Homo sapiens: one gene and its partners. The protein of the gene in region 2 interacts with the protein of the main gene of each other region in a biochemical or structural test. Each region holds a gene or a part of one and is shown on either strand. Other genes may lie near its edges. The genes, in order: ZRANB1, UBE2G1, UBA1 and AMFR.

Region 1 (7,756 bases), on a different chromosome or scaffold from region 2:
GAACTCCTGACCTCAAGTGATCCACCCGCCTCGGCCTCCCAAAGTGCTGGGATTATAGGCATCAGCCATTGCGCCCCACCGAGAATTATTTCATTTCTTCAGTTCTCTATGATTGTTTAGTAGGTGGTTGGGGAAATTTGTAGTGTAGCTACAATTTTGAGGAATTGACTTCAATATAAATATAATTCTTGTACAGTGTTTAGTAATGCTTCACAAATATTAAACATGACAGTATAAAAAATGTTCCATTATGTAAGTCCCTTTCCCCCGCCTGCTATTAGTACATATACCATATTTCTGCACTTTTATTATCTGAATTGGAAAGTATATAATTAAAAACAGTTACGAATTTAGTACTTGTCAATTTAGTAGTAGTAAATGGTTGATATATTTAGAGACATTATTCATTCTACAGGCAGAGCTTGATGCACAAATGGATTCCTGGTCTCCTTGGTCCACAGGATGGGAACTGTTGGTATTGCATTTGAACCAAGGAATATTTGTCTTAAGAGTAGCAGTTTTGTCCCGTTCTCCTTAAAGAAGGCCTAGATTATGTTGATTTTATTGTGGTTTTATTTTACCAATTAATTGAAGTTTGAGTCCTTGGATAGAATTTGCAAATCTGCTTTGCATGCAAAATTAAACTTGTAAACTAAATTTACTTGGGCGTATGAATATATTTAATACTTAAAGTGATATTTGGTAAGTTTTATTTCAAGGTAGAGTATTAACTTTTAGAGCTGGCTACTTTGGAAATAATTTTATGTACTTTTTGGAATGTTTTGACATCTGGAAAAAGTGTACTCTGTTAATTTCTTTGTAATACTGCAAAAAAACACATAGTTCAGTTGATGTTATCCTTACTGTTCAGTGCTGTTTACTAATTACCACAGGTAGAAATGGCTGTCTCAGATAATCTTCAATGAATTTTTTCTTTTCTTTTTTTTTTTTGAGACAAAGTCTCACTCTGAGTGCAATGGTGTGATCATGGCTCACTGCAGCCTCAAGTCCCCTGGGCTGAAGCGATCCTCCTGCCTCAGCCTCCTGAGTAGCTGGGACTACAGGCATGTGCCACCACCCTGGGCTAATTTTTGTATTTTTTGAAGAGATGTGGTTTTGCCATGTTGCCCAGGCTGGTCTCGAACTCTTGGATTCAAGCAATCCACCTACCTAGGCCTCCTGTGCTGGGATTACAGGCGTGAGCACCTAGCCACTCTTCAATGAATTTTACCTTGCAGTTACTAAACAACATTCCTGCAATGTTTCAAGTTCTCTCAGAGTGAACACTGTACATCATTACGTTTTTTTTTTTTTTTCCTTGAGACAGCCTTGCTCTGTCATCCCAGGCTGAAGCACAGTAGCACAATCATAACTCACTGTAGTCTTGAACTCCTGTACTCAAATGATACTCCTTCCTTGGCCTCCTGAGTAGCTGGGACTATAGGCACAGGCGACTGCACCTGGCTAATTAAAAAAAAGTTTTTTTTTTGGTCGGGCATAGTGGCTCGCGCCTGTAATGCCAGCTCTTTGGGACGCTGAGGCAGGTGGATCACTTGAGGCCAGGAGTTTGAGACCAGCCTGGCCAACACAGTGAAACTCCGTCTCTACTAAAAATAAAAAAATTGGCTGGGCATGGTGGGATGCGCCTGTGGTCCCAGCTACTCTGGAGGCTGAGGCAGGAGATTCACTTGAACCTGGGAGTGAAGGCTGCAGTGAGCCAAGATTGTGCCACTGCACTCCAGCTTGGGTGACAAAGTGAGACTGTCTCAACAACAACAAAAATCGTGTTTTTTTTTTTTTTTCCTTTTTTGTAGTGATGGAGTCTTGCTGTGTTGCCCAGGTTGGTCTTGAATCCTGGACTCAAGTGATCCTCCCACCTCATTCTCCCAAAGTGCTGGGATTAAAGACTTGAGCCACTGTGCTTATTATCTAATATAAGGCACATCTCAAAACTCTTGAGCTTGGTTTTGGTATTGCTTAGTTACCTGGATTTTCAGAGGTTGGTGGGCTAATTAGGCAGCTGTCTGTCCATTATTTTACCAGGCATTTATGACAGTGATTATTTTTTATGACAGTTTTTTGTTTGTTTTTTAAATCAGCCTGGACATTTAAATATATTGTGCCAGCATATTAGTTACATGAAGATTAGCTAAGATAACATAAGGTTACGGGCTGTTTAGTTGCACCTACAAACATAGTAAGACTTATCAAAACAAGTATGGATTTTGAATGTGAATATTTTAAAAGATATATTGAAATTACTTAGAGTAGCCCTGGATATATGTTCATTATGGCATTTATCTTGTTAATAAGTTTCTACATGCTCATTTTAATTTCCAGTAGCATGAGCAAGTAACTTATATTTCATTCCCGAGAAACTAAAAGAATCTGCCTAAAGAGTATGAAAATTGCCATTAAATCTGTATTGTCTACTTTCTGGATGGTTATATCATTATAGTTCTCTGCTCTTCCACACATTTTTGGGCTGCTATCAGTTTGTAAGTAATCATTATACAAACTAAATTTAAAAATTTAAACAAGATAATTTTATATTACTTGGATCAGGGAAAAAAATGCAGTTGCTGAAGGTGGTTTCATAGCTAAATATAAGCAATTATTTTGCTTTTTCTACTTTTTTGGATTTTATCATCTTTTCCCTTTTAGTAATAGAGTAATACAGGTAGGAATTAACTTAGCACTGCCAAATTAATAGTAATATTAGAACTGTGTACACAGCACAGGGTTAAGGTTATATAGAAAAATGTCTCATCCATGTTTAATTTGGCTGACCAGCCCAGTTGATTAGCCAATTTTATTGTTTTGTTAAATTAAAATTCTAAATATAGTTGTCCATTGTTAAAATAAGTGAGTAGGGTTAAAATAGAGAATTGATAAAAATAAAGCCTTAAAAATCTTTTAGCTAAAGTAGCAGGCTTCAAGTGAAATTCAGTTTTGGTCTCCTTTACAGGAATAGCTATTCAGTCAGACAGAACCACTTATCACGTTTTGCAGTATCTCCTGAGGAAGTCAGAATTCTGAGCCAGCATGAAGACGGAATCTTGTCTTTGATCTGATTTGCAAACCGTACTTTTATTCTAATCATGTGCAAGGTGGAGGTTATAGCGTGGGAACTAAAATCTTAGTAAGTGTGGTTTTTATTTTAGCTATTAAGTAGTATACTTTCTTATAGTGATTTTTTTTTCTTCTTAGCAGAGTTCACACTATAAATGGTGTATGGACTTGGCAGGCAGGAACATAATACAGTATACTTCAAAAGTGAAAGATTTAGGCCAGGCGTGGTGGTTCATGCCTGTAATCCTAGCACTTTGGGAGGTCGAGGTGGGTGGATCACGAGGTCAGGAGTTCATCAAGAGAAGCCCGGCCAAGATGCTGAAACCCTATCTCTACTAAAAATACAAAAATTAGCCGGGCATGGTGGCATGCACCTGTAATCTCGGCTACTTGGGAGGCTGAGGCAGGAGAATCGCTTGAACCTGGGAGGTGGAGGTTGCAGTGAGCTTAGATTGCACCACTCCACTGCATTCCAGCCTGGGCAAAACATAGCAAGACTCCATCTCAAAAAAACAAAAATGAAAACAACAACAACAAAAAAACAAACAAACAAAAGATTTAACCCTCTAGGTTCAGGAAAAATCCCTGAGAAAGAGAGAGCAAAGCTTCTATACTCTGCCTAGGATTTCTTTCTCTTTCCGGGTGAAAAATAGGTGTTGGGATGATACTGAGTTGATAAAAGTATTTAGGAAAAGTGGCCAGTGTCTAAATTCAAGCCATTAAAAAAAAAAAAATTAAATTTGTTATGTAAGTTGCTTCATTTATGAATTAGTTGCCATTAAATTATGAAGTCTTTCTTCATTATAGTGTAGTGTTAGCCCATTGTTGAATCCTAGAAATCTTTTAAGTAGTGTGAATATCTTTTAAATATGAATTGGATTTTTTGGGGGGCAGGGGATGGAGTCTCACTCTGTCACCCAGGCTAGAGTGCAGTGGTGCGATCTTAGCTCACTGCAACCTCTGCCTGCCGGGTTCAAGCAGTTCTCTGCCTCAGCCTCCTGAGTAGCTGGGATTACAGGCACCTACCACCATGCACGGCTAATTTTTGTATTTTTATAGAGACGGGGCTTTACCATCTTGGCCAGGCTGGTCTTGAACTCCTGACCTTGTGATCTACCCGCCTCAGCCTCCCAAAATGCTGGGATTATAGGCTTGAGCTACTGCCCCCGGCCATGAATTAGATTTTGAGTATATTTTAAATATTCAAAATTTAAAATATTTTAATTATGAACATTCACAATTATATTGGAATGATTATGCTACTGGTTATTTCAGTGACCTTCCACAGATTTAATTTTCCCCAGTACAGTCTTCTTTTTTTTACTCCAGATAGAACTAGATTTTGAGGCTACAGATTATCAAGGAACTACCTATTTCATAATGTTACTTTGTTAATTGTAGCCATTACTTCTCAACATGTTTCTTTACTACCTGTGCTAATTAAGAACAGTGGATAATTAGCATTTTAAGTTGCTTTTCTCCCTTAGCGAGAATGATAAAATAGACGTTGCTTGATCTTCTGAATTCATGAATCATAATCTGTGTTCATAATTTGAGAATGGTTATGTGTTTAAGCTATTTTTTAGTTTGTGTTGTTTCCTCTACCTTTGTCTCTTTAAACTATTGGTTACTTTTCTAAATTGATGTGATGGCCTCCCTGAAATTAAACATTTCTATTAGTGGCTTCCCGTTAATCTCATCCTTCTTAGATCAAACCTCGTTATATCTCCTGCCTATCTCTTTTGCATTCCAAAGTTCAGTTTTATTAAATCCCAGGGTCTAAGATTTTTTCTTTGAGAATTTATCTCCAGTGTTTCTATGGAAATTAAAAAAGAAAATTAGGATAATTCAATGTCGAAATGTTGCATGCATCTTTTGAGAAATTTATATTTTGTAGGTTGAAGGACTTGCTTTTTGGGCAGCGTATTTTTGGAGGTGGAATGTAGTTATTTTAATAACCATGTCCTAATTATTTATAGCTTCCTGCCTGACACAGCTCACTTCAAGAAGTGCACAATGTCAGAACGTGGAATTAAGTGGGCTTGTGAATATTGTACGTATGAAAACTGGCCATCTGCAATCAAGTGTACTATGTGTCGTGCCCAAAGACCTAGTGGAACAATTATTACAGAAGATCCATTTAAAAGTGGTTCAAGTGATGTTGGTAGAGATTGGGATCCTTCCAGCACCGAAGGAGGAAGTAGTCCTTTGATATGTCCAGACTCTAGTGCAAGACCAAGGGTGAAATCTTCGTATAGCATGGAAAATGCAAATAAGTGGTCATGCCACATGTGTACATATTTGAACTGGCCAAGAGCAATCAGATGTACCCAGTGCTTATCCCAACGTAGGACCAGGAGTCCTACAGAATCTCCTCAGTCCTCAGGATCTGGCTCAAGACCAGTTGCTTTTTCTGTTGATCCTTGTGAGGAATACAATGATAGAAATAAACTGAACACTAGGACACAGCACTGGACTTGCTCTGTTTGCACATATGAAAACTGGGCCAAGGCTAAAAGATGTGTTGTTTGTGATCATCCCAGACCTAATAACATTGAAGCAATAGAATTGGCAGAGACTGAAGAGGCTTCTTCAATAATAAATGAGCAAGACAGAGCTCGATGGAGGGGAAGTTGCAGTAGTGGTAATAGCCAAAGGAGATCACCTCCTGCTACGAAGCGGGACTCTGAAGTGAAAATGGATTTTCAGAGGATTGAATTGGCTGGTGCTGTGGGAAGCAAGGAGGAACTTGAAGTAGACTTTAAAAAACTAAAGCAAATTAAAAACAGGATGAAAAAGACTGATTGGCTCTTCCTCAATGCTTGTGTGGGTAAGTTTCTGTATTCTGCATTTTTTGCGTGGGATGGGAAAAGGTAGTAAAAATGATATGAAAAGAGCTGGGTGCGCTGACACACGTTTGTGGTCTTAGCCACTTGCTTGAAACCAGGAGTTTGAGGCTGTAGTATGCCATGATCGGTCTGTGAATAGCACTTGCACTCCAGCTTGGGTAACATAGTGAGACTGTGTCTCCACGCACATGCAAAAATGTGAGTGTGTGTGTGTGTGTGTATATATATATGCGCAAAGTCACTAGCATTTGATTCATTCAGCACGATAGCTGTACTTTCAAGTATGCATACATAAAAATTTGTGTATTTGTGATCTTGTCGTAACTTTGTACTAAATTGCCCACAATTAATTGTGTTCATGTCTCTCCATTACTGGGGGCAGTGGAAACGTTTAAGTTAAAGCAAAGTTTTTACACATCAGCAGTAAAATATATACCTGGACTTTAAAACTGCTACTCTGTTTATTGTAACAAGATGTAACTGAGGAACACCAGCTGCTGTTTCCAAGTATTTGTAAACAGTGTGAGCATCTTGTGATGATAGAAGCTTTAGTCAGATGTTAAAAATACCACAAAAATGTGTGACTCCAAGAAGTTGAACAAACATATTGACCTTGAAAATACTGGTGTTAATTTAACATGAATGTCATGTAGTAAATGTTTGCAAACTTTATGGAACTGATTACATGTAGCCAGCTGATTCCATACTTCAAGTTATGGTTCATATGTATTGTGACATTTTCCTCAGGAAATGCTGTTAAAGGACAGAGACATAGGAGAGCAGAGTTTTTCTTCAGTTCTTGACCTTGTGAGTTAATTGTGATGTAATTCACAAAAGCAGTGACTTGAGTCTTCAGTATTTTTTTTTTGAGTAGATTAGATGTTTGATTTTTATTAAATTATTTGGATGGGCTGCTTGCTTTGACATTTGGTCTTATGAGGGAAATTTTGAATGATTACTAAGTTTAAACTTTGTGTGGAACAATAGCTAAGCTTTAACTATACCTTAGCTGTATGTTTTCCCTCAGTACCAATTTCTTTTATTTATCCCTCTGGGTACAGCCCAAGAATATGGAAAGTTTAGGTGTATGAACCTGTGAGTCCTAGGAATTGATTTCCAAGAAATCGTGAGTTTTAAAATTAAATTATATATATCATTCCCCCCCCCCCCCCGCCCCAAGATGGGATCTCACTCTGTCACCCAGGCTAGAGGGCAGTGATGCAATCATGGCTCACTGCAGCCTCAACCTCCTGGGTTCAAGTGACCTGCCATCTCAGCCTCCCCAGTAGCTGGGACTCCCCATTAGCATGTACCACTATGCCCTGCTATTGTTTTAAATTATTATTTGTAAAGATGGGGGTCTACCTATGTTGCCCAGGATGGTCTTGAACTCCTGGGCTCAAGCGATTCTCCCACCTCAGCCTCCTAAAGTGTTGGGATTATAGGCATAATTTGCTGTGCCCAGCTGAAATCCTGAGTTTTCAATTTTAGCTTTGTTCTGGCAAAAAAGAATATCCCAGCAGATGAATCCTTCTGACCTCCAGACTTAGTAGGCACTTAGCAAGTCTTAGTTCTAGTTTCCTCCCATCCTGAGGATGAGGGGATGAAAACATACCGGGCTATCTTCTGTCTGTGTTGTCCCATTTTATTCCTCTGATTTTTCTGCTCCAAATTGAGGGGCAACATACAGTATGATTGTCAGTTAAAAAAATTTAAACAGGAGATACAAAAGGGTTTTGTTATTAGTTTCCTTAGAGATCAAATTGATTTAACATAAAAATTCACCGTTTTGCAAGTGAACAACTCATTTGGCATTTAGTGCATTCACATTGTGT
Region 2 (3,960 bases):
AATTAATTTACATTTAAAATTAAATATACCCACGTGGCTGTGAGCTACCATAATAGATAGAAACAAAGTGAGCTCAGAATGAAATTAAGGATTTGTTGTCAAATAAATCTAATATGGATAAAACCTACTTACAGTTAATTCTTTTGTAATTGATGAATTGACTATATAATGTTGTTTTTGTTGTTGTAGGTCTCCAATTGAGAAACATGGCACTGTTTTTCCTGCACTCTACCCACCTATTGCTGGACTTCTGTTGTACAAGTTGGCAAACACTGGCTGGAACTGGGCTGCAATAAAACATGCCAGTTATCAATGCTGACAAGAGCCTAACAAGTGCCAACTTACAGATGATTACGCATTTTGAATTCTAATGAACTGTTTTAACCTTCAGGAAGAATTGTAAAGACCTGTACATAGCACAACATGATCCGGATAATATATATACTGTTCATGTACATCCACAAATACACCTTGTACCAAATAATGCTTTCTTGTAGTAGAATAAGAATCGTGTAAATTCTAAGAGATTTTAGCAGGTTTTCTTTCCTATTCATTGTTTCTTATCAGTTTAAAAGGATTCCTTTAAGCATGTCAGATGAAAAGCAATTAGGATTAAAAGTTTCCATTTAATTTCCCTTAAACCCTTGAGGCTTCATTAAACTCTTTTCACTTACTAAACTTTTGTATCTTCTTTGTTTTGACACACTCCCCTTTGCTTTTATCTCTTACCTGCCAGAATGTTCTCAAATGATTTAGTTCAAATACTGAAATACTTAATGAGCAATTACTTGATTTTTAATGATGACTTCGAAGGAGTCATCACTAGGTGCTTTGTCCTTTTTGTATTCTAGTTGCACCCACCTCTTGGATTGGATATAGCAATAACATTTATTGGCCGTTGTGAGCTCTTGATCCCAGTCATTACCCCTGAGAACTAAAAATAGATGGTTCTTAATTCAACTTACTGAAAATTTCCCCAAACAATAGCAAATCTGACTTTTCCCTCTTCAGTTGCCTGGTATTAAGGTTGGATAAATGAAGCATGCACAGCTACAGGCTTTCTACTTAACTTCTGGGTTTGCTATTACAAATCCTATTTACTCTCATACCCTTCTCCTTAGTCCTTCATATTTCTCTGCCTCTATTCTTCTATACTGCAGATTTTTCTCACCTATTGTACAAAGAAATTGCGATGTATATTTTCATGTAATTTGATTTTGGAATTCTGTCACCTTATGTAGTGAGTTCTTCCAAAATATAATTTTTTTTCAATAATTGTCAAGTTGTTGGCTTTTATTGTATTGAATGAAGGCTATAATACTGAGTGCCAGAGAAGTGGTTTAGGAAAATCTCAGGTTGATTCCTTATGCAAATGAACTTTTAATACTTGAAAATCACATGGCCATGGCAGTATATGTATTTGGTTCTATCTAGATTCTTCTGTGAATCTAAAAGCATTACAGGGGTAAATGCTTTGCTATTTGACGTATAGATCCCGTCACTAACAATAGTACACTTGGATGTGATTAATGTTTGAGCTTCAATATATTTCATATCATACAGTTTTCTAAAACAACTTCAGCAAATGGTAAAATGAACATGTGCAGTGTTAAAGGCAGGCCTTAGGCTCCTTCATGTTTGTTGTGAGGTTGTGTGTGGGAAGTAGTCTTTGGCTTATAAGGGATAGAACTTGAGACAGTAGCAGATGGGACATGGTGTTTGATTGTGAGAATCAGTGAGAATTCGTGCATCTCTGCTCTGTGGGGTTTGGAGAAATGCTTTGGCAGAAGAGTGAAAGAACTCCTGCCAAGAGCCCAGACCTCTACAAACGTTGTATGTCCTTTTTTAAGCAGAAATAAAATGGTTGAGGATGTAGTCACAGTAGAGAGTGATTTTTTTCTAAGTCCCTGTCCTCTACTCTGAAGCGTTATAAAAACCTGTAAACATTATACAAACCCACAAACCTTATAGAAACTCGTAAGTGTGTTGTGACTGGAAATTGATTCATTAGAACCCAGTTTTCTTTAAGAACTTTGTGACTTGGTTTTTTTTTTCCTTTTCCAAAGACTGTAAAAATAGTTGCCCCAAAATGTCAGCACTGCACACCCTCCAGGGACTTGGAATACAATCCTTTTTACTTTTTTTTTTTTTTTTTTAAGAAACTGGGTCTCTCTGTCACCCAGGCTGGAGTGCAGTGGCAACGATCATAGCTAACTGCAGCTTTGACCTCCTGGGCTCAAGTGATCCTCCTGCCTCAGCCTCCTGAGTAGCTAGGACTACAGGTGTATGCCACCATGCCTGGCTAATACAAAAAAATTCTTTTAAGAGATGGGATCCCTCCCTTTTAAAATCAGAACTTGTTCACATGGTGGTTGCTTGTGGCAAAACGGAGTTCAAATTTTGCTCTCCTATTGCTATAATTCTGCTAGCAATCTGTTGAGGTGAAACTTGGGATCTGACTCTTCAGCAAGCAGCAAATGACCTAGTAACTCAGGGACAACTATTTTTGAACTTTAAGTGCCACTTTAATGCAGTTAGTTTGATAAAACCATGTGGGTTTTTTTTTTAGGGCTAGCTCTACGGGAGTGGAAGTGAGAGCCAGGCATGAGTGCGTCTCCACATGCTTTTCCACCTGCCCTGAGTGTGTTACATACTGAAACAGGCCTACATAGATGTTACAACTTCCCTTCCTCTGTCGGAGATGTCATCTGTGCCTTTCTCAGTGTTCATCTGATAATGTAAATTTAAATGCCTCTACATTTGATACGAAACCCACATTCAGGTGACACTGAACGAGGTGGCTTTTGTCCCACCAGTGCCTCATCAGTGTGAGGCGATTCCTCTCTGCTTTAGGAAAATGATTTTTCCCCCTAAACTTGTGCCAACCATCAACAACATCTCCATAGATCTTATGGATTGTAGAACTGTTGGCTGTTTCCTAAATTTATTCCAAGTTCTCGTAGAGGCATATAGATTTCAGTCTGTGCTTGTATGGGATAGATGATCTGAGTGGCTTTCTGGCCTCTTTTTTGAGTTTAAAATCCATATGAGGTTGACGTGTCATACTAAGGTAACATGTTTGTGAGGTTATTCCACTAGTACTGTGATCACGTGGGTGTCAGTATCTTTAACGGCCTTCATTCTTGGTTGTGAGATTTTATTTGATATGCCCACTCACCCTCGACGAATCTGCCCGCTTTGGGCTGTGGTGCCTGTGTATCTTTGCCCGTCTGGTCTCCAGTTGGTGGAATTACCTTTTTTGTACTGCCACTTCTCAGCATCTTTGAAATTTGACATAATGTTGCTTCATTTCAGTTTTTTTAGTTCTGTAATTTGTTGATTGTATTTAACTATGTGAGTTCTGTTGTGATGTTTACTGTATTGTAAAGCACCTCATTCATGTGATGAGTGCTCTATAAATCAATAAATGATGACTTAGAGGCTGTATCACGAGCTATTTTGGTTTTAGGATGCAGGTCTCAAAAGCAAGTTGTGGGACTCTTTCTGTATAAACAGCACATGATACCAAAGGAACCACAGGGAAACCTTGTATTTTACAGACTTTAAAGAAGGAACCAGAGAAGTTAACTTGCCTTCCAACCTGATAATGATGCTCTTTAGATTTCCAGTACGTGGCCATGCACCGTTTTAACTCAGAGTTTGTGTGCACTGTGATTTATAACCTTCGAGTGAGCACTTATTAGAACATTATTGGGGATTTTGTCTTTGGCCTAAACTGGCTCTACCATAAAGGTAAGCTGAAAGGTGAGGAACCCAGACTCAAATGTGAACTGGAAGAGACTGCAGGCACCATCTCAGTCACCACCTCTGTCCTCTAAACAGACGGGAAAATGCGCCAATACCTGCCCAGGGGTCATTTAGTAAGTTACTGACAAAAGAGGCAAGACTGAGTAGAGAACCTTCTTTACAAGATACACAAGATATCAACATCCAGCTTTT
Region 3 (7,043 bases), on a different chromosome or scaffold from region 2:
GAGGCTGAGGCAGGAGAATCGCTTGAACCCAGGAGGCAGAGGTTGTGGTGGGCCAGAGATCACGCCACTGCACTACAGCCTGGGCAACAAGAGCGAAACTCCGTCTCAAAAAAAAAAAAAAAAAGAAAAAGGAGGAAAGTGAGACGACAAAGCCCCAACCTCCTACCCTACTCACCGTGACATCCCAGGGCCGGAAAAGAAACTGTCGATTCAGATTTGACTTCTCAATGGTGTCCATGTCTGTAACGATGATTTCTCCACCCTCCCCGCAGCCCAGCCCAATCATGGCAAAGTTCTTGAGCAGCTCACAGCCAATGGCCCCCGCACCCACCTAAGAAGCAACCAAGAAGACAGGCAGAGGCTGGTCAGGGTGATGCAGGTTAGTGTGAAGCTACCCATCACCCCTCACTCCCCTGAGAGACGGGGAGAGGGGCTAACACCACATCTTCAGGTTGCAGGACTCTAAGAAATGACACGCAGTCATGTGAGGAAGGAGGCACCAGAAGGGGAAACGAGGGATGCACTGGGCTTCCCTTCAAGATAAGGAGAATGGCAAAGAGAATGCGCCACCGGTTGCATTGAGATGCCGAAGGAAGCCCCAGGGGTGATGGCCAGAGGCCAAGATGAGGGGAGCAGACATCCAAGGGGACCACTTACCAGGAAATACTTCTGCTTGCCCAGCTTCTCTTGCAGGTCTGAGCCAAACACAGCCACTTGCCCGTCATAACGGTTCTGGCGCTAAGGAATGCAAAGGGAGGAGGGTTAGAGAGGCCTCCCCAGAAATGTCCCCAATGATGCCCTCCCCACAGGTCCCACCCACATACCTGGAGGCACTTGTCCTCTGTGAGGACCTCTTTGTCCTCAGGGAGACACTCAAGGGCATCAAAGTATAGCCACTGCATGATGGGCATGAACTTCCCGGAGCAGGCCTGGAGAGGGGAAGGGAGAGAGGGGGTGGTCAGTGGTTAACAGGGGCCTGACACAGACAGAGAGCAAGTGACAGAGTCATGGAGGAACCTGGCCCACCCCAATCCTGCCTCTCCCCACCCGTGCTGACCTTCATGACTTCCTGGGCAGCCAGGCCCCCAATGAAGGCGTTTATGGGTGCCAGATCCCCAGCAGCCACATATGCCAGCTTCCGGATGAGGTCCTCGTCCAGGTTATTTTGCTGCACTGCTGGCAGGGCTCGAGCATTCACAGCCTGTGCTAAGGCTACCAGTTCTGCTGCATCCTCCTGGTGGGCCAGAAAGAACCAAGAGAGGATATGTCAGGCCACAGTGAGGGCAGGGAGTGTGGACACGCAGAGAGGCATGGTGAGCCTGCAGTGCCAGGCATGTCTGCGCTGGCTGGCTCGCCCACTCACCCACCTCATTGCGGGGCCGAGGTGGCCGGCCATGCTGAGCACAGAACTGGTGCAGGGCCTGGAAGCCAATGTGCAGCTGGGCAGGGCGAGAAAACTTGGCGAAGTCCGTCACCACAAAGTCAGGTTCTGCCAGTGAGGCCACCAAGGATTTCTGTGGCGGGGGGAGAGGTCATCAGAACCAGAAGAGAGGAATGGAGAACTAGGGAATGCCTAGAACCACCCCCCACAGCCCACTGATCCCATCGACACACTCACAAAGCTAATCTTCTTAGGTACTTTGACCTGACTGACGATGCCTCCACGGATGTAGTCGGAGAAGTTGGAGGTGTCACAGATGCTAAAGGTATAAGGACCTACAGAGGGCAGGAAGAGAGCTGTCAGTCTACCCATTCTCCCTAAAATCCACAACCCCTGCAAGATAAGGAACCTCCTGCCCCGACTCAGCTCAGACATCAGAAGCTGTCTTCCCTCAGCTCCAGGCTCCACTTGGACATCAGAAACCATCTCTCCTGTGCCCCAGACTCAGCTCAGACCCCGTGAGACCCTGTGTCCCTGGCTCCAAGTCTACACGGGAAGACCTTCTCTGCTTCCCATCCAAATCAGCTCACACACAAGTAGATCCGCTGATCTGCCCTGTTCAAACACCAGAGACTTTTTCCCCACTCAGCTCAGATACCAGGGACACATTCTCCCAGGAATAGCTCAAACACAGTACCTCTCCCCCATGCCCACCAGCTCTTATTGGACCCCACAGGATTGTCTGTAGTTCATCTCAAACACCAGGATGTGTCTTCCCAACTCTGAACCAAGGGCCATGTCTTCTCCCTTCAACTCCCCGGCCAGAACCCAGGAACATATCTTCTAGTTCCCCTCTGCTTCCCCCATGGTCGCAGCTCACCCAGGACTTTGATCTCCATGGGCTGATTTCCGTTGAGTTCAACCATGCCCTGTACTTCTGAAAAGGAGACAAAGTCCCCGCTCTCAAACCCGTGTCGGGCCTCATCCAGGCAGGTAACCACACCGGGGTTGTCCTGGTTAAAGGAAGAGTGAGTCTCAGAAACAGGCCCAGGGTACCAAGAGCAGACAGGAAGGACTACTGCAGCCCACCTGCCTGCCAGGAACCCTAGGGCTGGTCTCCTTACCTTGGTAACCATAGAAACCATAGCACTGAGTGGCTGCTCCCCATTGGAATCTGTGAGGATCATTTCCTCTCCAAAGTCACAGAAGAGCTGCCTGTAGAGGGAAGCAATAGGGCTGGTGCCTGTGTCCCATGCACATACAGGTCCCACGGGTCCCTCAAGATGTAGTGAAAACTTGCTGAGCAAACTCAGCCTATCACTGCTGGGATGTAAGATGGTACTTGTGCCACATGGGGAGAGATGAAAACACAGAACCCAAAACCTGGGTAGCTGAGAAGGGATGAGGGCAGGGAGAGCCTAGAGTCTTGGCCTGGGCTTGGTAGGAGTTGGGGGAAAAGGGGACAGGGAGGGAGGTGGGCTGCCACTCACCCAAACAGGCCCCGCGTGTCTGCCACCACCAGCTTGATGCCACGGTTGTGACAGAACTCACCCACTCGCAGCTGGTCCTCCAGGGGGGTGTTGGTGAGCACCACCACCTGTGGAGAGATGGAGGCTCAGGCCCAGCATTGGGGTGAAGGGGAAAAAATGGAGGGCTGGTGTGGAGGACTCAGGCAGTCCTCAAGGCAAACACATCCAGGCTTTGCTGGGTCAGCCTCTTTCACAAACACATAGCACCTACTGTGTATCAGACTCTGTGGGGGTCGAAAATGAACCCCTGGACTATACCAGGAAAGGTGAAGAGGTAGCTGGGAGGAGGGAGTTTGGAGAAGAGCTGACTCATTTATTTGACAAACACCCGCTGCTGTCTGTCTGCCATGCCCTGTGAGACACTGGAGTAAAACTCTGTCTCCAGCCAAAGTCTGAGCTCACTCCTACCACACCCACCTGCTTCCAATTCTCAAGACGACGCCTGCTCCGCCATGATCTTTGGGATTTTGCTCTCTGCCTGAATGTCCATCCTTCCCCACCAGGGTGAGCTCCTACTCCTCCATCAGGATTTAGCTGCAGTGCCCTGGCAACCTGGGATACTCCAGGGACAACTCTCAGCTTCCAGAGCACCTCTTTCCGGCCTGGACTTTTTAATTAACAAACACCCATCCAGTCCTTATATGCCAGCTGCAATTCCACGTGTTTAACCCTCACAAAAAGTCCATGAAGTCAGTGCTGCTACCACGCACTGACTACAAACAGGAAAACAAAGGTACAGGAGATGAAACAACCTGCTTGAAGTCACACTACCAAGGCTGGAGGCCTGCAGCAAGGCAGTATGGCTCTACAGTCTGTGCCCACAACCACTATGCTGTACTGTCTGTACACATCTTCCCCACTTGAAAAGGCGGGGCCAGGCCGGGTGCGGTGGCTCACACCTGTAATCCCAGCACTTTGGGAGGCGGAGGCGGGCGGATCACAAGGTCAGGAGATCGAGACCACCCTGGCTAACACAGTGAAACCCCGTCTCTACTAAAAATACAAAAAAAAATTAGCCGGGCGTGGTGGCAGGCGCCTGTAGTCCCAGCTACTCGGGAGGCTGAGGCAGGAGAATGGCGTGAACCCAGGAGGTGTAGCTTGCAGTGAGCCGAGATCGCGCCACTGCACTCTAGCTTGGGCGACAGAGCAAGACTCCGTCTCAAAAAAAAAAAAAGAAGAAAAGAAAAGGCAGGGCCAGGGGCTAACTGCTGCCTGCATACTCTAGTCCCCCAGCACAAAACCTGACATTCAGGCCGACCCATTAAATCAATATTGAACACTACTGAATAAACCAGAGATGGGCTCTGAGAAAACTGGGCAGAAGGCTGGGTAGTACCCCCAAGATACCTGGAAACCACTAAGGAAGTCCTCAACGAGGGGTCCAGTGTAGGCAGTGACAGGCACATAGCTGTTGAGCTCAGCGAGGCGGGGCTGTGATACCTCGGCCCGGTTTTTACCGATGTCCTCCTCCCGCAGGTAGAACTGTAAGGGTGTGCAGTAGGGAAAAAGATGAAATGGCTGTGGCACCGGGAACAGTGGTGCCTCGGGAAGGGGGAAAGGGGGAAGGGTGCTAGGAAGAGGTACCTGGGAGGAAAGATCAGCCCACTGGGCAGTGCCCTGGTCATGTAGGGTAACAGCCTTGACCCCACCAAGGATGATGTTCTTAGCGATCTCCACGCCCAGGCCCCGCAGGCCTGATACCAGGACACTGGATGTCTGGAGCCGCTTCATTGCCTCATGGCCCAACACATACCTGCCAGGTTAGGGGGTACTCTAGGTCAGGGCCTGCCCCACCCAACCTTATCCTCTCAATGTCCCATTCCACACCCCTCAGCCCGGCCTTGGCCCCACTTACAGCTGCCGGGAGTAAAGGCCCTCGTCTATGTCTGCTTCACTGCCGTTCTTGGCCATTCCCTAGGAATAGAGGAAAAGAACAAGTTTAGGGAGACACACAGGAGTGGAGCATGGATAGACAGACAGTGATACAAAAGACTTTCCCACCCACCACCTCGTCTGCCAGTCTCCACGGAGAGGACACTCACGTTGGTTGGCACCGAGGGCACTTCGGACAACACGGACTGGGCAGGGGAGCAGTTAGAACCCGGCTTTGGATCAGGCCCGGACACGCGACGTTTCTTGGACAGCGGCGAGCTGGACATCTGGAGGAAAAAAAGGTCAGAGGTGACCCTGGAGCACATGGGTACCGTTTTTCTGTTTGTTAGTAGCAACTGTGGGGGAAGGGAAGACTTAAGTATTAGTACCCCCATTTTACAGCAAAGAGGGGACAGGCACAGAAAGGTGAGGACTTGCCCAGGGTAACACAGCTGTCAGACCTAAGATCTGAACCCAGGTGGTCTGATTTGCAAATCCACACTGCTGACCACTAAGCCATTTGCTTCTTCCCAGCCCAGCATAATGAGGGAGAGACTCCAATCCTGGAGTGAAAGGAATGACAAGAATGTACTTGTGTCGAGGTCAGGGGAAGGATGTGGATTCAGGACAGACCTGGTTTCAAATCTTGAGCCTGCCACGCACTAACAGTAATAATTAACCGCCACAGGCCTCAGTTTTCTCACCTGTGAAACAGGGGTGATAATACCACTTACCTTCCCCACGGGGTTATCGAGATGATAAATAACACAGAGCATAGAACCTGGCACAGAGTAGGTAGGCAGTAACAAGCAGCCATTCTCCTCTCCCTTAATCCCAGGGATGGCGGCGGGAGCGGGGAGTGCAGGAGGGAAGTGAGGCTTGGACATCCATCAGGGTGGCATGATGGCAGGAGCGGTAACTTGCTGAGAACCCAGTCCCCAGAGGGGCTCAAGTTTTATAAAGCCCAACCCTGCCCCCAGCTTTGGGAGGGGAAAACCGACACAGACCAATAAAAGAGGTTGCAAAAAGATAGAAAACAAACACATCCCAAGCCTCATCTGCATGCGGAGTCCCTTAAACAGGTTAACCACAATGATAAATGAGTATTAGATTGATCAGGAGTCCTCCTTGTGCCAGATGCCATAGTAAGCACTTCTCTAAACCTCGTCTCACTCTGTCCTCAGGGTACTCCTGTGGGGTTTGGACTGCTATCAATAATACCCCCAACTTTAAAGTGATGGAAAAAAATTCACTCAGGGACGTTCGGTGACCAAGGTTCCCACACACTGAGCTGGGACCAGACCAGGATCTGCTGACTCTGAAGCCCAGGCTGCTTCCTCGTGTTATCACGTTTCATCCCCTCCATGACCCTGACCCAGCAAGGCAGAGTTTAGTGTCCTTGCCGGACAAATGAGAAGTAACTTGCCCAGGGTCACCTGCTAGGTCCCAGAGACAGAACAATAAAGCCTGCTGTGGAAGTGAAATCTGGTGGTGGGGGTGACTGGGTCCACATGCTGGAGATGGGAGGACCCAGCGTCACTTCCCCTCACCCCAAGTGCTCCTCTAGGCACTGAGTCTTCTGTTCACACAAGTCCTCCCACACTGAGACTTTTATGACACTAAGTATCCCAATGTACCTAAGATTCCATCTTGGCACTTGTCACTAGCACCAACCACAATGACAAGAGCTCCCTACTATCTACCAAGAGCATACTGTGTGTCAATCAAAGAGGAAAGGGCTTTGTCTAATCTTAACAATCCCCATGACCCAGATAACCCTATGCCCAAATCACAAATGGGAAAAGAAAGGCTTAGAGAACCCCATTCACTCGCCCAGAGGCATGCAGCTGGTGGGGGACTGTTTGCCAAATGCCCCTGGGCTCAGGGCCCAGTCCACAGGGCTAAGGAATGGGAGATGAGGGGAGGCAGCAGGCTGGCTGGAGCCCCTGAGATAGCCAGGTGAATTGCTTAGAATGCTAAGAGCCAACCTGGGTAGCAAGAGGCTTGGTGAGTTAGTAGAGACAAAGGTGAACCATATTTTCCATTTACTGACTCTCTGACTGACCTGGGGTAGAGATCTCATTTCCTCTGAGCCTCATTTTCTCCAAAAGCTGGGACAAATGAAACTGTCTTCAAGGGGCTGCTGGCAGGGTTAAAGAAGCCAAGGTCTGTGGTCAGAACTCACTGACCTGAGGATGTGAGTTCCTCCCTGGGCACGTGTAGTGGCCTCTATTACTTAGTTATCTCCTTGCCTTGTCATT
Region 4 (7,000 bases), on a different chromosome or scaffold from region 2:
CAATTGTGCTAGCCCTAATAGACTAGGAATGCCAATTTCAGAGAGGAGGACTAGAGCAAGATTGAGAAAGAAACAGAACAGAACAGGCACTGTCCTGAGTCCTGTTGAAGGTGAGAGGAGAGAGTTGTATACCCTCGGAACATTGCTTCTAGAGGTTTATAATCCCAGTGCTAGGAGGATCTTTGAGAGTAAGGGATGAAAATATAATGCATATTGTTATACTCAGTAAATTAAATGACACGGATCTCTAAATATCACCTCATGCTCATATTTGGGTTATTGGAGAATAGGACCATATAGTAATGGGATGCTTTTCTGTGCTTAGCACAGAACCCTAAGCAGAGAAGCCAAGATTGACCTTGAATTTCTCAGTGAAGTTTAACACTTCCATGAAGAAGAATGAGCAGTTTCCTACTGTGTGCATTTCAGCTTTCCTTCTCGCCCACCACGCCGATGAGCAGCCACGGTCGAGTCCTGTCCCTGTTGGTTGCCATGCTGCTTTCCTGCTGTGGACTGGCGGCCGTCTGCTCCATCACCGGCTACACCCACGGAATGCACACCTTGGCTTTCATGGCTGCAGAGGTGAGATACTGGATGCAGGACTTGCTCAGATTGTATTTCTGTCTGTTTTCAAGGAAGCTGGATGTTTGACAAGTTATTTTCACCCATGAAATGACAGGTGGATATTTGGTCTTTCATTTTAACAAGCATTTCAGTTCCTTTTTGTGTGTTGGGTACTGGTACTGAATGCTTTTGTGTGGTATTTTATGTAACTCTTTCTTTACGTAGGGTATAAAGATTTTACAAAATAATGAATAAACTGTACTCATCATTTTGAAGGAAAAATCTGGTCTATTCATGAATATTTTAAGATTTAAAAATTTTTCACTCTTTTAAACCTTTCTGAAAATACCAATTTCTGTTCAGTAGAAATAAAAATTCTCCAGCCTGGCCAATATGGTGAAACCCTGTCTCTACTAAAAATACAAAAAAAAAATTAGTTGGGCGTGGTGGCGCACGTCTGTAGTCCCACCTGCTTGGGAAGCTGAGGCAGGAGAATTGCTTGAACCCGGGAGGCGGAGGTTGCAGTGAGCAGACATTGCGCCACTGCACTCCAGCCTGGGTGACAGAGCGAGACTCCATCTCAAAAAAAAAAAGAAATAAAAATTGTTTGTATGTCCTTATATTTAATGGCTATATTTGCCTTTTCTTCAGGCCAAAGGCAAAATACTTTTATCTTACCCATAATTAGTATTATTAATTAAAAAATGAGATATTAGATAAACTGAAGCTAATTGGCTAATATCAAAACACTACATTTGAACTACTCATTGGGAATTTGGTAGAGCAGAGTTAAAGTTTATTTCTGTTTGATAGCATTCATTTTTGAGTACATTTAGTAGTGTAAGTAAAATTAGAAAAGAAACATTTAAATACATAATGTTAATTATCATATTATAATATTGTAATTAAAATACAATAGTCCTAATATAAATAATAAGATATGTAATCTTAGGTGAATACTTCTGTATATGAAAAATATACAACCGTATTTCGTCTTGACAGAAAATCTGTTGAAAAATCCATTTACACTGACTTATTTGCTTTAGATTTATTGCAAAGTTAGAATGATACTTATGTTTGCCTTTTTTTGATTCTCTAACTTTCAACTAATATAATATTATCCAAACTTTGAAAAGGGTATACCTAAAAATAAGCACATTTAACTTAGGCCCGTCAGCTCATACTATAGTATATACTTTTATTTTAGCTTGTTACTGTTTATTCTTTTAAGATAATTTATCATATTACAGATTTGATATTTTAAACTAAATCATTTCTTACATTCATAGTGTTTCTCTCTCCTGTAAAATATTTTTCACTTACAAATGGGAATTTAATCTAAAACATAAATAATGTAATAGTTTTATTCTACTAGATTAAGAGGACTTTTTTTCTTAATGAAAAATATCTTTTTTTTTTTTTTTTTTTTGAGACAAGGTGTCACTCTGTTGCCCGGGCTGGAGTGCAGTTGCTTACTGCAACTTCCACCTTGTGGGCTCAAGTGATCCTCTCATTTCCTTAGTAGCTGGGACCACAGGCATGAACCACCATGCCTGGCTAATTTTTGATTTTTTTGTAGAGATGGGGTTTTGCCATGTTACCAGGCTGGTCTTGAACTCCTGAGATCAAGCAGTCGGCCTGCCTCGACCTCCCAAAGTGCTGGGATTACAGGTGTGAGCCACTGTACCTGGCCGTCAATTTCTGTAATAAAAAAAATACCCTTCAAGACCAGCCTAGCCAACATAGCAAGACCTTGTCTCTACAAAAAAAAAAAAAAAAGCCATGAGAGACTTATTTTGTCCCTCTCCTCTCCTCCCCTCTCCTCTCTCCTCTCCTCTCTCCTCTCCTCTCTCCCCTCTCCCCCCTCCCCTCCCCCCTCTCCCCCTCTCCCCCCTCTCCCCCCTCCCCCTCCTCTCTCTCCCCTCTCCTCCCCTCCCCCCTCCCCTCTCCCCTCTCCCCTTCCACTTCTTCCCCTTCCCCTTCCCTTCTGACAGGGTCTGGGGTCTGGCTCTCTCACCCAGGCTGGAGTGCTGTGGTGCGATCTCTGCTTACTGCAGCCTCCACCTCCCAGGTTCAATCCATCCTTCCACCTCTGCCTCCCAAGTAGCTGGGACTACTGGCACGTGCCACCATGCCCACCTAATTTTTGTATTTTTTGTAGAGATGGGGTTTCACCATGTTGCCCAGGCTGGTTTTGAACTCCTAAGCTTGAGCAATCCTCCTGCCTCGGTCTCCCAAAGTGCTGGGATTAAAGGTGTGATGTGGCTGGCCTTATTTTGCTTTTGATTGCTTTCGTTCTTTTTTCTGCTGGTGGACAAAGGGAGTGCACAAAGCACTAGGGAGAGAGCAGGTCCTCGTGTCTAGGATAGCAGTACCTGAACTATACTTGGAGTTACAGCATCACCCTTCTAAGTAATCAGTGATAGTGACTTAATGCTGTGTGAAATAGAATTGATGGTCAGACTACCAGGGTAAACCTCAAGATTGTAGGGGGATTCCTGGGGGGTAGGTGTAATTGGTTGTCACCTATTAACAGGACTTTTCCTCAATAAAAGTTGGGTTTCTAGGTCATAAAAATATTTTACAGAAATTTGAAGCAGAGAAAATAAAATAATGGGTAAACTTGAACAATCTGCTTTTTAATTGAACTGAGAAATGTTTGTCTTTTATCATTTTATAAAAAGTTTGGCCTGAGCAATGCTACATTTTACTAAAAAGAAAATATCCTTTTTTATAGTCTCTTCTTGTGACAGTGAGGACTGCTCATGTGATTTTACGGTGAGTGAAATTGGGGAGGGAGGTGATGGAGGCCTACTCATACAGTTGATTTTAAGATGTAGCAGGTATGAAATATATAAAAATCGGACTAAATTACAACATGGTTAAACCAAATTCAGTAGTAACAGTAAATTACTAAGGTGTTTTCTCTCTTCATTACAGATACGTAATTCACCTCTGGGACCTCAACCACGAAGGGACGTGGGAAGGAAAGGGGACGTATGTCTATTACACAGACTTTGTCATGGAGCTCACTCTCCTGTCCCTGGACCTCATGCACCATATTCACATGTTGGTAAGTTTCCTCAGAAGGAGCTCTAACAGAGGGCAAGCCTTTCAGAATCAGGAACAGTAATGGTTTCTTCATTAAAAAATGAAACTTTAGAAATAAGATGTGGATGGACTACTTAAAGACTAAAAATGAATGTGGCTGCAAACCCTCCCTCTTTTTGCCACTGGGTGTAAGGCAGTGCCATGGAACTGCTTTGGCTGGTGCCTAACTCAGGAGGTGTTTGCTGTCCTGGGAGACTTAGTTAACTCTGCTGACCAAGTCAATAGATTATTCTTTTAGCATGAAATTAAGGAGCTGCCTTTCCCCATAGTTTCTATGGCTTTAAATATTTAGCAGGTACTTTGTAGGTGGTAATGGGAATTCCTGCAGTGTTAGCTACTTCACAGATTTATACATTTTCCATCTTTGTAATTAAAAAAAGTCTTTACACTTAATTCCTACATTCCTACTACCATCATTGTTTACATTTTACTTTGGTATGTTAGACGTTACGGTGTCGTAGATCTGCTTCATTGGTTGGCCCTTCAGTGATCTAATAATGGTGAGAATTAAAATAGTTGGTGGGCAATTTATTTAAATTATAAGCCTAGCAAGTAGCATTTTAAAATTATTGGGCTAGACGTGGCACATTTCTAAGTCTACTTTTTGAAAGAAACTTTGAAAACATACTTTTTAAAGAAAGTATGTAATTCTTTTTTTTAAAAAAGAGCCTCGGCTGGACGCGGTGGCTCATGCCTGTAATCCCAGCTACTGGGGAGGCTGAGGCAGAGAATTGCTTGAACCTGGGAAATGGAGGTTGCAGTGAGCTGAGATCGCGCCACTGTACTCTATCCTGGGCGACAGGGTGACACTCCGTCCCAAAAAAAAAAAAAAAGCCTCCCTCCCCCCTCAAAAAGGGGACAAACAAATGGCCAAAGATAACTGTTAAGATTTTTTATCTTCTTTTTTTAAATTTTTTTTCCTCATGCTTGTATTTTTTGTATTTAACTGCTTCTTTTTATGTATTTTTTGTATTTATGTATTTTGTATTTTTATGTATTTTGTATTTAACTGATTCTTTTTATGTATTTGAGTACATACATTCATAAATTGAGATCATATTTTAGACATATAGTTCTGTTCTTTAAAAACTAATGTATTATGAACATTTTCCTGTGCTAACATCAGTTCTTCTAAGCCATTTTAATACTTTCAGGATAAAAATATCATCAGATAGCTGTACCATGATTTAATAAACCGCATCCCACAATGGGTTATTTAGATTATATTTGGTTGTTTGCTATTTCACATTTTACATATTTTTTATCATGTATTAGTTTGATAAAGATAGTTATATCTTGCTTTTTTCATTTATCTAGTACTATCTTCCCATAATTGACCTTCAGAACTGTTATATATACAAATATAATAGTAATATGTAGTTATATAGTATAATAAGTGAAATTAATGACTATATAATTTTACATTACATGAGTTTACAACCTAACTGTTCTTCTGGGCATTTTGTTCATTTTCATATTTTCTGTTTTATAATTGCATGGATAGACATCTTTTTGCATAAAGCTTTTCCATTTCTGATGAGTTTCTCAGGAAAGATGACTGGCATTGGAGCACCTAGGCTGACGAGGATGTGCATTGTTTAGAGTAATGAGATAAATCTGTGTATTTCCTTTCTGAAAGACATTGCAGTTCACCATCACCAACAGTGAAGAGCTTCCGCTGCATACTGCGCCTTCATCACTAGCAAGTTCACGTTCGCTTTTACCGTGTGTTTTATTCTCTTTCTCTCTAAGTTATTTGGCAACATCTGGTTATCCATGGCCAGCCTGGTCATCTTTATGCAGCTGCGTTACCTGTTTCATGAGGTGCAACGTCGAATTCGTCGGCACAAGAACTATCTACGTGTGGTTGGAAACATGGAGGCCAGGTAAGGAAGCACAAGTTGATGTTGCCTAAGTTTACTCATTTTAGTTTTTTAATAACAGCAGATCCCAGAGTATGTCAGAATGTATGTTTGTAAACTGCTAATAGAGTGGTGGAGAGGAAAGGCTCTGGAGTCAGACTGCCCGGGTGTGAATCCCCACTTAGGTGCTGTGTGATTTGGGGCAATTTACTTCACCTCTAAATTAGGGATGAAAACAGAACCTTCTGCCTGAACTATTGGGAGAATTTGGTGAGATAATTCATGTACTTAGAATGGTACTGGGCAGATAGTGCTCAGTATTAGGCTCTTATTTGTCATGATTTTATTGTCATTATTATCAAATAGACACTTCATTGGGCTTCTACCCTGTTCATTTCCTGAAAGTGGGTCTCAGTTCTTTGCACATGCATGTTTACACACACATACTTAACCTCATTGAAGGAGGCACTTTTTTGCCAAGCTGGGGCTAAGCCACGCCTGGAGGTGCAAGATTAATGGGTATCCTCTTTGCACCCAGGGGGACAGCTTGGATCTCTTCTTTGTGGCCAGGGACACAGATTGGATCTCTGGGGGCCTTACTCCTCTGATTTGTCCGGATATGGTCTCCGAGGTCTTCACTAACAGCAGCCATTATTATTATTATTATTATTATTTTGGAGATGGAGTCTCACTCACCCAGGCTGGAGTGCAGTGGCACAATCTCAGCTCACTGCAACCTCCGCCTCCCAGGTTGAAGTAAGTCTCCTGCCTCAGCCTCCTGAGTAGCTGGGATTGCAGGCGCCTGTCACCACGCCCGGCTAATTTTTGCATTTTTAGTAGAGACGGGGTTTCACCATGTTGGTTAGGCTGGTCTTGAACTCCTGACCTCATGATCCCCCTACCTCGGCCTCCGAAAGTGCTGGGATTACAGGTATAAGCCACCGCGCTCGGCCTAGCAACCATTATTTAGACAAAGTTCCTGTGCATAAGTTACTCACTTTTGAAAGGGCTTTGAAGGTAAATTATATTTTTGATTATCAAGAATGTTTTGCTGAACATGCTTTCTCTGTAACTGTGTTGTGATACAGGCGCAGTCTATCAAGTGGTGTTTAGTGTGCGTGTGGAACTGACTGAGGTTCCTGCTGGGCTTGTTTTGTTTCCACAGGTTTGCAGTTGCAACTCCAGAGGAGCTGGCTGTCAACAATGACGACTGTGCCATCTGTTGGGACTCCATGCAGGCTGCGCGGAAACTGCCCTGTGGACATCTTTTCCACAAGTAGGAGCTTTGTGAAGGGCCATGTGGGACAGGTGTTCTGTCCAGGGCGTGTGTGTGCTTTGTGTACCCAGGCTCGAGACTCATCCTAGTGGAGGAGTGGGGACATTACCTCAGCCTGGCCTTGCTGCTGGCACTGAGTGTTCTGGGAAGCTCTTGGGTATCCTTCTTTGTTCCTTAGCCTCTTCCC

The links.
Region 1: the proteins of UBE2G1 (region 2) and ZRANB1 form a complex in vitro, tested with the Homo sapiens proteins (one study listed by BioGRID).
Region 3: of the proteins of UBE2G1 (region 2) and UBA1, one has a biochemical effect on the other in vitro, tested with the Homo sapiens proteins (3 studies listed by BioGRID, with this or other methods).
Region 4: the proteins of UBE2G1 (region 2) and AMFR form a complex in vitro, tested with the Homo sapiens proteins (7 studies listed by BioGRID, with this or other methods).

Annotation. Positions count from the first base shown.
Region 1 is NC_000010.11:124,937,406-124,945,161, forward strand, and holds the start of ZRANB1 (ubiquitin thioesterase ZRANB1), read left to right. Parts: upstream 1-4,717; 5' UTR 4,718-5,051; coding exon of another isoform or gene 5,052-5,088; coding exon 5,089-5,902; intron 5,903-7,756. UniProt on the Homo sapiens protein: Ubiquitin thioesterase, which specifically hydrolyzes 'Lys-29'-linked and 'Lys-33'-linked diubiquitin. Also cleaves 'Lys-63'-linked chains, but with 40-fold less efficiency compared to 'Lys-29'-linked ones.
Region 2 is NC_000017.11:4,268,746-4,272,705, reverse strand, and holds the end of UBE2G1 (ubiquitin-conjugating enzyme E2 G1), read left to right. Parts: intron 1-189; 3' UTR 190-3,447; downstream 3,448-3,960. UniProt on the Homo sapiens protein: Accepts ubiquitin from the E1 complex and catalyzes its covalent attachment to other proteins. In vitro catalyzes 'Lys-48'-, as well as 'Lys-63'-linked polyubiquitination. May be involved in degradation of muscle-specific proteins.
Region 3 is NC_000023.11:47,196,829-47,203,871, reverse strand, and holds part of UBA1 (ubiquitin-like modifier-activating enzyme 1), read right to left. Parts: exon of another isoform or gene 6,882-7,043; coding exon of another isoform or gene 6,848-6,881; exon of another isoform or gene 5,670-6,847; coding exon of another isoform or gene 5,517-5,669; intron 5,482-5,516; exon of another isoform or gene 5,416-5,481; intron 5,070-5,415; coding exon 4,953-5,069; intron 4,825-4,952; coding exon 4,766-4,824; intron 4,664-4,765; coding exon 4,495-4,663; intron 4,393-4,494; coding exon 4,258-4,392; intron 2,979-4,257; coding exon 2,872-2,978; intron 2,597-2,871; coding exon 2,506-2,596; intron 2,395-2,505; coding exon 2,262-2,394; intron 1,717-2,261; coding exon 1,619-1,716; intron 1,515-1,618; coding exon 1,368-1,514; intron 1,235-1,367; coding exon 1,058-1,234; intron 930-1,057; coding exon 825-929; intron 739-824; coding exon 658-738; intron 332-657; coding exon 176-331; intron 1-175. UniProt on the Homo sapiens protein: Catalyzes the first step in ubiquitin conjugation to mark cellular proteins for degradation through the ubiquitin-proteasome system.
Region 4 is NC_000016.10:56,401,546-56,408,545, reverse strand, and holds part of AMFR (E3 ubiquitin-protein ligase AMFR), read left to right. Parts: intron 1-429; coding exon 430-582; intron 583-3,301; coding exon 3,302-3,342; intron 3,343-3,504; coding exon 3,505-3,637; intron 3,638-5,427; coding exon 5,428-5,561; intron 5,562-6,702; coding exon 6,703-6,813; intron 6,814-7,000. UniProt on the Homo sapiens protein: E3 ubiquitin-protein ligase that mediates the polyubiquitination of lysine and cysteine residues on target proteins, such as CD3D, CYP3A4, CFTR, INSIG1, SOAT2/ACAT2 and APOB for proteasomal degradation.